Linked DNA regions of Homo sapiens: all the other regions are linked to region 2. The links come from fine-mapping of genetic effects on gene expression. A gene starts in region 2. Each other region holds a variant in brackets. All regions are shown on one strand. Distances are from middle to middle. Region 1 overlaps ADD2 (adducin 2). Region 2 holds the start of ADD2 (adducin 2). Region 3 has its middle 4.1 kb from the start of CLEC4F.

Region 1 (2,759 bases), 100 kb after region 2:
TCCTGGGGCCTCTCCCAGCCTGGTTTTCAGCCTGTTGACAGAGGAGGGGTCTAGGCTATCAGAGCCTGTCCTCAGTACTTTCCAGGGGCCTAACACATGTTGATTTCTGGAGCCCTGTCCCTTCTCTTGGCCAGTGGAACCCTCCAGTGGTCTCTGACTCTATAGTTGAGGGAGTGGTGACCTTAGTTGGGAACCTGGCTCCTCCAAGCCCCATTTTCCATTTGCTATGACTCCTCAAACAATTCATGATGTGGAACCTCTCTGAATCATGGCAGATGCACCATCTGTGGCCCCCACTTTCTACATGGTGAGAAGAACCTTGGGTGTTGCTCTCCTAAACCAGACACACACCAGGGGCTGAGGCTGTTGCTTAGGTTGACAGCAGGGCAGGTATGGGCAAAGGGACATGGATGAGGGGCATGGTTGAAGGAGGCCATTGGAGTGAAGATACTCATTGCCACCAGGCAGGAAATGACACTTGGACAGAAAGTGGGAGCCCCTCTTATCCATAGTTGTCTTCACGGAGCTAGAAGGCAAGTGCCCCAACCATCTTAGAGGAGAGCGCCAAGGGTCAGTCTTGAGAAATGCATCCTAATGTATCATCCAAGTGAAGGCCCTGCAGTGAGGGTCTAGTTTGAAGTTGCAGAGCCCTGGAGAGCCCAGGAAGATGAGAGGGAAGACCAGGGCATAGGTACAGGAGACAAAGGCCAGCACTCAGGGCTGGTGTTCATTTACATGAGTGGATCCAGTTCAGCTTAGAAGGCTCAGGCTGGGATAGATAAGAAAAGATTAGGTGATGATATTGGCTTGGTTAGAATAAATCCATTCACATATTCATTTATTTGCTCATGCCTTCAACCATTCATGGATTCCACAGACCTTTTCTGAGTGCCTTCTGTGAGCTAGTGACATAGGTCATTAGACACAATTTTGCCCTAATTCATTTCAGTGTAGAAGGGGGAGGAGATAGGCATAAAAAACAAGTGTGGGCTGGATGCAGTGGCTCACGCCTGTAATCCCAGCACTTTGGGAGGCCAAGGTGGGCGGATCACGAGGTCAGGAGTTCGAGACCATCCTGGCCAACATGGTGAAACCCCATCTCTACTAAAAATACAAAAATTAGCTGGGCTTGGTAGTGGGCACCTGTAATCCCAGCTACTTGGGAGGCTGAGGCAGGAGAATTGCTTGAACCTAGGAGGTGGAGATTGCAGTGAGCCGAGATTCCACCATTGCACTCCAGCTCTAAGCGACAGAGCAGGACTGTTTCGGGAAAAAAAAAAAAACAAAAAAACAAGTGTGATCGTTTTGCAGATGCTGTGATGGAAGTTTAGATAGCAGAGGCAGAAAGGAAGGAGTGATAAACTCTACCTGGAAGTGGGAACGAGGATCAGGAGAGACTTGAAGGAAGAAGTAACACTCAAGGTGATTCATTATATGGAGTGAAGGCTGGGGACACAGAGGAGAGAGAAGGGCCTTCCAGAGGGGAATGGGCTGGGATGACAGTGAGAGGTCCAGGACCAGCAGCTTGGTATGGCA[G/A]GAAGCAGGCGAAGTGGGAATAGGAGAGTGGACAGAGAGATGGTTGTGTCCAGCCTGGTTTATGGCACTCAAGAGTACTGCCAAGTGATGGCCACAGTATTACGTGGCGGGACGGGATGGGACACTGGATGAGGATGACAGGACATGGGCTGGGCAGTGGGAAGACTGGGAGCAGTGGCCAAAGTCTTTGATACCAAGAGGGAGCTGGTGCTCCGCAGTGGTCTGGAGGGGGCACTTTGACTTGCCCAGCAGTGTCAGGAGTTGCAAAGACTTTGTTACAGGGAGATCTGGCCCAGGTGGTTCACTAGTCCACTTTAACTGTCCACAAGTTACCCCACTCTGTCCCATCCTCCATGTAACCGTGCACTTCCCCAGACTTCACCCCTGTTAAGACCCCAGGCTTCTCCTAAAACTGAGTCCTTCACTCGCTCCCTCTGTAACACTGACTATACCTTCCACATCACCCACGATTCCATACACCTCAGCATGCCGGGTTCCTTCTTGTGATGTGGCAACACACACACTGCATTCATATGTGCCCATCACACACACACCACACAGGTGTGTCACACACTCACTCGCACACATTCACACCCTCGCATATGCTCATGTGCACTCACACACACTTACACAAACACATTTGTAAACGCTCACTCCCACACTCATATACCACTCACTGTCACACACACTGGTTCGCACATGCTCACACCACACACACAGACACACTCATGGCAAACAATCTCACTTGCATACTCAAACTTACACACTTACACCACACACAACCTGCCCACTCACACTTGCACACCCTCACACACCCACACACACACTTGCACACTCACACACACTTGTACACACTCACACGTGCTCACCCACACACACTCCTTTCAGTTCCCGTCGTGAGAAGAAGCTGAACCGGAAGTTGGTAAGCCGAGGTCTGCCCACCATGGTACTGTGTTCTTCAGCCTTCTTAACTGTGCAGTGGGGAGGAGAGGCATCAGATAATATTTACCTTGCTTTCTACTTTTCAGTCTGTGGTTTTACAATCTCCCTGACTCTCACCCCATCCAGGCATCTGAAAGGTTGTGTGGAAGCAAGGTTGAGTGAGAGTGGGGAGGGGGAGAAAGGGTGGCAGGAGGGTTTGGTTTCTGGGGCCTGAGTAACTCTGGCCTTGAACATTCCCGCGATCCCGACAGATTCCCAGGTGGAATAAAGACCTGGGGGCC
Region 2 (2,759 bases):
TGTGAGAAAACAAAATAACACACTAGGAAGAGAAATTTTGGGGGATGGAAATGACTGGGGTGACTTATGAAACCTGCTATTTCTAACAAAAATTCTCCATTCTTTTTGGGGGTTCTATTAAGATATAGAGCCCACCTTACCTGTGACTTCTGAGCTCTGGAGAAGGGGTTCCCTGTTTCTCAGATCTCATCACCCATTAGCACCAAAAGAGCTATGGCTGCCAGGAATGACTCAATAAACATAACACGTCCTGGCTTCTTTGACCAGACAGACCTAGGTCCTGGGGTGGGGAGGGGAAGGGGTTTCATCTTGTGTGGCTGAGCCTGTTGTAATTCTTCTAGCAGGTTTTGACAGGAGAATGGGGAGAAGTCTTGTGGACTCGGTGATTCTGAATGAGAATGAGTGAGAAGCTCTGAGTGTGGAAGGAGGGTGCAGGGACCAGGTATGCATGTATGTTTCTTGGAAGGGGGGCTGAAGCAGAAAGACAAGTTTATCCTGGCATCTAGGGTTGTCGTTAGCATTTTCTTTTCTAAATCAGTAGTAGCTCTCAGAGTGGTGTTTCTAAAGTGTTAGTGTGCAAAGGAATCACTAGGGCTGCTTGTTAAAATTACCAATCCTGAGCCTACCTCCAGAGATTCTGGTTCCACAGCAGCACTGTGGTGGGGGCCAGTGACTTTTGTGGGGGTGTCTGAGGGCTGTGGTGCCCCAGAACCTGGAAGGGCAGAGGGGCCATGATCAGGTTTCAGATCAGTGGCCAGAGGCTTTTCTGGAAGCTGTACATTTTCACAAGCACATTTTCAAAAGCCCTTGGAGAGGATGTTGATTGAGGGGAGTTTTGGGGACTGGTGGAGATTATGGGGGTGAAAAGTCCAGAGCTATCTCTTAACACCCCTACTCTCTGAGGGCCAGGCCTTGAAAGTATTGGAAATGGGAGGTGCCTTAGGTACACTGTCATTTTACAGAGGAAGACAACGAGGCCCAGAGAGGTTAAGTGGGTTGATTAAGGTCTCACAGCTAGTTAAGAGCAGCTCTGAGACGGCAACCGAAGTATTCTGGTTCCCTATCCAGTTCCCCACTCACTACACACCTGTTCCTTCTGGGGCGGGAGACCTGAGGAAGGAAAGGAGTGAGAGGAGAATGTAGTGAGAGTTGGAGAGCGTTGGGTCCACAGCCCCCAAGGGCAGGGCCACAACAAAAATGTTGTCCTGGTTGAAAAGGAGTGAGAATCAGGACAGGGAGAATTTTGGTTTGGAATTCAGTCAAACAATTGCTATTAAAATCACTAATAGAATTATCTTCCGAAGGCTAGCTGTCCTTTCCAGACGAAAAGAAATATTCCAAGTCTAAGACTTTTGCTTTCTTCCTTCCAGGGAGAATACATTCCCCCAAGGGAGCTCTGTTTCAGATTTTCTCCCTAGTAACAGACTCCCCTGCTTAGCTCTGGCCATCCCGGGTAGTGAGTGGTGCGGGGCGGGGGTGGAAGGGGGCTGGAAGCCTGGCTAGGGGGGTCTGCGGCGGCGCGGGCGGGGGCGCTGCGGGGAGGAGGGGGGCGCTGCGGGGCGGTAGTGGGGGTGCTGCGGGGCGAGGCCGCTGCGGGGCGGTGGGGGGCGCTGCGGGCGGGGGCACTGCAGCACCGCGGCCCTCGGGCGGCCGGCGCGGCCTGCTGGAGGGGGCGCTGTGGGCACCGCGCAGCGGCCTTTTGTCAGCGCGCAGGGCCAGGAGAGCTCTCATTTCCTCCCAGCCTCGTGCGGGAAATGGCTTTAATTCTGACGGCAGGGCTGTGAGGGACTAGCGGGAACCCGAGCCTTTTGTCAAGGAACTGCGGCGTCGGTGGCCAGTCATCCCCGCCGCCGCGGAGCCGCTGCACTGCTGGGGGATCTCCCAGCAGCTCTGACGAGCGCGGGCTGCAGCATGGGCAGAAAACGCTGCCCTGCAGATTAGCTGGGTGGATTTTTTAAGCGCACCCCACCCCCCAAACCCATAAAATAACAAAACCAACCCGCAGTGGCCGACCGGAGATAGCTAAGATGCCGCGCAGGAGGTAAGGGTCTGGGGAGCGGGCCTGGTGGGCTGCCTGGGGTCGCTGGTCTCCTGGCGCGGAGACCCTGGCATCCCTCGGCCGGGCGGGAGCCGCTTGGCCCAGGTGGGGCGCGTCTGTTGCCGAGCGCGTCGGTGCTGCAGCCCTGGCCGGCAGCGGTGTGTTTTGCGCCTAAAGGTTTCTGGTGATGATGTAGCATCCGAGGCTCTTAGGAAATCGGGGCTGCAAGCACTGGCCCCTGCTTGGGGATGGTGGGACCCTCGCCCGGAGCGTAACGCCTGACAGGTGGGGCTTTCTTTTGGGTCCGAATGGAGGGGCGGCAAGCCTCGCCTCGCCTAGCCGGGCGGGGCCGCTCCTCCCCTCCCCTCCCTCCCCTCCCCTCTCTTTCCTTCCCGCTCGGCCGCCGCCCTCCGGGGTAGCGGTGCGAGGCGGGCTTGGCGGGGCTGGGCGCGTCCCCCGGGGCCTCGCGATCGCTGGCTGCGCGGCGCTCAGCCGCAGTGGCCGGCCGAGCAGGTGCGGCGTCGGCAGCCGCCTACATTGAGATCGGGGCAACCGGCACGTGAGCGGGCCTCGTGGGTTTTGATTTTATGCGGCTCCACCACTTTGGAGGGAAAAATCCCACTGTACCCGAGGGGGTCTTGCCAGTCTGTTTCTTCCATCTTCCCTCTCCTCTCCCTGCCTCCCCTCCCTTTCTGCAGCCGGGGCGGAGGCCATCCCCGGT
Region 3 (2,759 bases), 56 kb before region 2:
TCACAGCTCACTGCAACCTTGAACTCCTGGGTTTAACCAATCCTCCTGCCTTAGCCTCCTGAGTACCTGGAACCTCAGGTGTGCACCACCATGCCCAGCTAATTTTTTTTTAATTTTAGTAGAGATGAGGTCTTGCTATGTTGCCCAGGCTGGCTTCAAACTCCTGAGCTCAGGTGATCCTCCTGCCTCAGCTTCCCAAAGTGCTTAGATTACAGGTGTGAGTTGCCATACCCAGCCATCCCTAATATCTTTTAAATACCTTTTTAGGCTGGGCTCAGTGGCTCATGCCTGTGTTCACAGAGCACAGAACTCAAGGAGAATCACTTGATCACAAGAGTTTGAGGCCAGCCTGGGCAACATAGGGAGACCCTGTCTCTAAAAAAAAAATACAAAACTTAGCCGTGTGTGGTGGCGTGTGCCTGTAGTCCCAGCAAATCAAGAGTCTGAGGTGGGAGAATTGCTTGAACCTGGGAGGTCAAGGCTGCAGTGAGCTGTAATCACGCCACTGTACTCCAGCCTGGGTGATAGAGTGAGACCCTGTCTCAAAAATTTTTTTTAAAAACTTTATATTATAGAATAGTTTCAGCTTTACAGAAAAATTGTGAAGATAATACAGAGAGTTTCTATATACCCACCCTTTCCCATTTCCCCGATTGTTAACATCTTATATTAGTATGGTACATTTGTCACAATTAATGAGCCAATATTTAACTGAAGTCCATACTTTATTCAGATTTCGTTGGTTTTCCCCTAACATCCTTTTTCTCTCCTAGGATCCCATCCAGAATACCACGTTACATTTAGCCATCATGTCTCCTTGGGATCCTCTTGGCTGTGACATTTTCTCAGTCTTTCCTTGTTTTTGAAGACTTTGACAGTTTTGAGGAGCCCACTGGTCAGGTACTTTGTAGATTGTCCCTTAAATGGAATTTGTCTGGTGTTTTTCTCATGATTACATTGGGGTACTGAGTTTCAGGAGGAAGACCATGGAGATAAAGGGCCATTCTCATCACATCCTATGAAGGGTACATACCATCAATAGAATTCATTACTGTTGGCGTTGACCTTGATCTCCAGGCTGGGGTAGTGTTTGCCAAGTTTATTGACTCCAGAATTACTCTTTTCTCCCTTTTCCTGTACTGAACTTTTTGGAAGGAAGTCACTATATGCAGTTCACACTGAAAGAGTAGGAAGTTACACTCTACTTTTCTCAGAATGGGATATTTACATAAAATATTTGGACATTTTCTGCCCTAGAGACTTATCTATTTGTTTACTTACTCAGACATTCATTTATGTCAGTATGGACTCACAGATATTTCTCTTACACTTTGGGTTATAATCCAATACTATTTTATTTGTTTTTTTGTTTTGTT[T/C]TTGCTCAAATTGCTCTGGCTTTGGCCATTGGGAGCTCCTTCATTGGTTCCTGTGTCATTTTGACATACTTCCCTCAGTTTTTTTTTTTTTTTTTTTTTTTTGGTAACTAAGCATCTCCTTACTTTCTGGTACTACAAGATGCTCCAGGCTCATCTTGAGTATTTCCTGCCCCAGTTCTAGAGTCAGCCATTTCTCTAATGAGCCCTGGTTTCCTTTTTTTGGAGAATGGTGTTAGAAATCAAAACCTGGGGGCTGTGTGGCTGTTGCTATTTGAACATCATTGCCTCTCCCAGCTGAGAGAGCTAAGTAATATTTGTGTGTACATCTAATTTTTTTTGAAAAGATCATTATGCTTGCACCATGGTGACAGGACTTGAGAGGGGGTAAGAGGAGAGGCAGGGAGAACAGTTAGGAGACGAACGGAATAAAAGCCAGGTGGTTTGCATTCAGGCCTGTAAATGTGTTGAATTGTTGTTGCTGTATTTTGTAGGGTGTAAAATCAGGACACTTTGTACTGCTGAATACAAGTGCTCACATCATGTCAAGAAGCTGTCCCTACTATTAAATAAAATGTCCTGGATTAAAAAACATAAAGAAGAATCCGCCTCTCTCCCTCTCCTGGCTCTGGCTCCCTCTGGTTTGGCTTTAGTCCCACCAAGTAGACTCTTTCTTTCTTTCTTTCTTTCTTTTTTTTTTTTTGGAGTCTTGCTCTGTCACCCAGGCTGGAGTGCAGTGGCACAATCTCGGCTCACTGCCACCTCCGCCTCCCAGGTTCAAATGATTCTCCTGTCTCAGCCTCCCGAGTAGCTGGGATTACAGTCACCTGCCACCATGCCCAGTTAGTTTTTGTATTTTTAATAGAGACAAGGGTTTCATCATGTTGGCCAGACTGGTCTTGAACTCTTGGCCTCAAGTGATCCACCTGCCTCGGCCTCACAAAGTGCTGGTATTGCAGGCATGAGCCACCGTGCCTGGCCAGTTCTTGTATTAATGCCCATTTGTTTTTGTCTGGCCAGAGAACAGAAAGCCTCTCAGTGAAGACATAGCAACCCCCTGGTTTTTCTGCCCTGCTGGTAGATGGTGTTCCTGTGGGAAATAGAAGAGCTAGGGCCCGGAGGGTGGGTGGGGAGGCCAGGGAAGAACTATGCCCCTCTCCTGGCCCAGACTCTGACCTTCCAGTTGGGCAAGGGATCCGTAGAGTTCTGCCTTCGAGGTTCCCTCAGCTCTCAGGCCTCAGGAGGAAATAGGTCCTGAGTAGGTCCAGCCTGGGCCCTTCCTGTGTATGGGGAAACAGAAACCAAGACAAGCCCTTTCTTTTCAGCCACCAGCCCTGGGTGTCTGATGGGCCTCTAGGGAGGCACCTCCAGCAGCTTCCATCCCAT

The links. PIP is the estimated chance that this variant, and not a neighbour inherited with it, causes the effect.
Region 1: its variant is the best candidate, but not a certain one, in a credible set for the expression of ADD2 in whole blood (INTERVAL, PIP 0.89).
Region 3: its variant is the best candidate, but not a certain one, in a credible set for the expression of ADD2 in whole blood (INTERVAL, PIP 0.80).

What each region holds. Positions count from the first base shown.
Region 1 is chr2:70,664,343-70,667,101 of GRCh38, reverse strand. The region is part of intron 15 of ADD2 (adducin 2); the gene reads left to right. Among named protein-coding and RNA genes, the nearest start is that of ADD2, 100 kb to the left of the region's middle. The variant G/A (reference allele first, on the strand shown) is at 1,537.
Region 2 is chr2:70,767,168-70,769,926 of GRCh38, reverse strand. ADD2 (adducin 2) reads left to right here and starts at 1,727. Exons shown (of 16, transcript NM_001617.4): 1 at 1,727-2,041. RefSeq lists enhancers at 487-1,051, 1,461-2,026, 2,027-2,592.
Region 3 is chr2:70,823,342-70,826,100 of GRCh38, reverse strand. It overlaps a transcript of CLEC4F not described here and a transcript of CD207 not described here. Among named protein-coding and RNA genes, the nearest start is that of CLEC4F, 4.1 kb to the right of the region's middle. The variant T/C (reference allele first, on the strand shown) is at 1,377.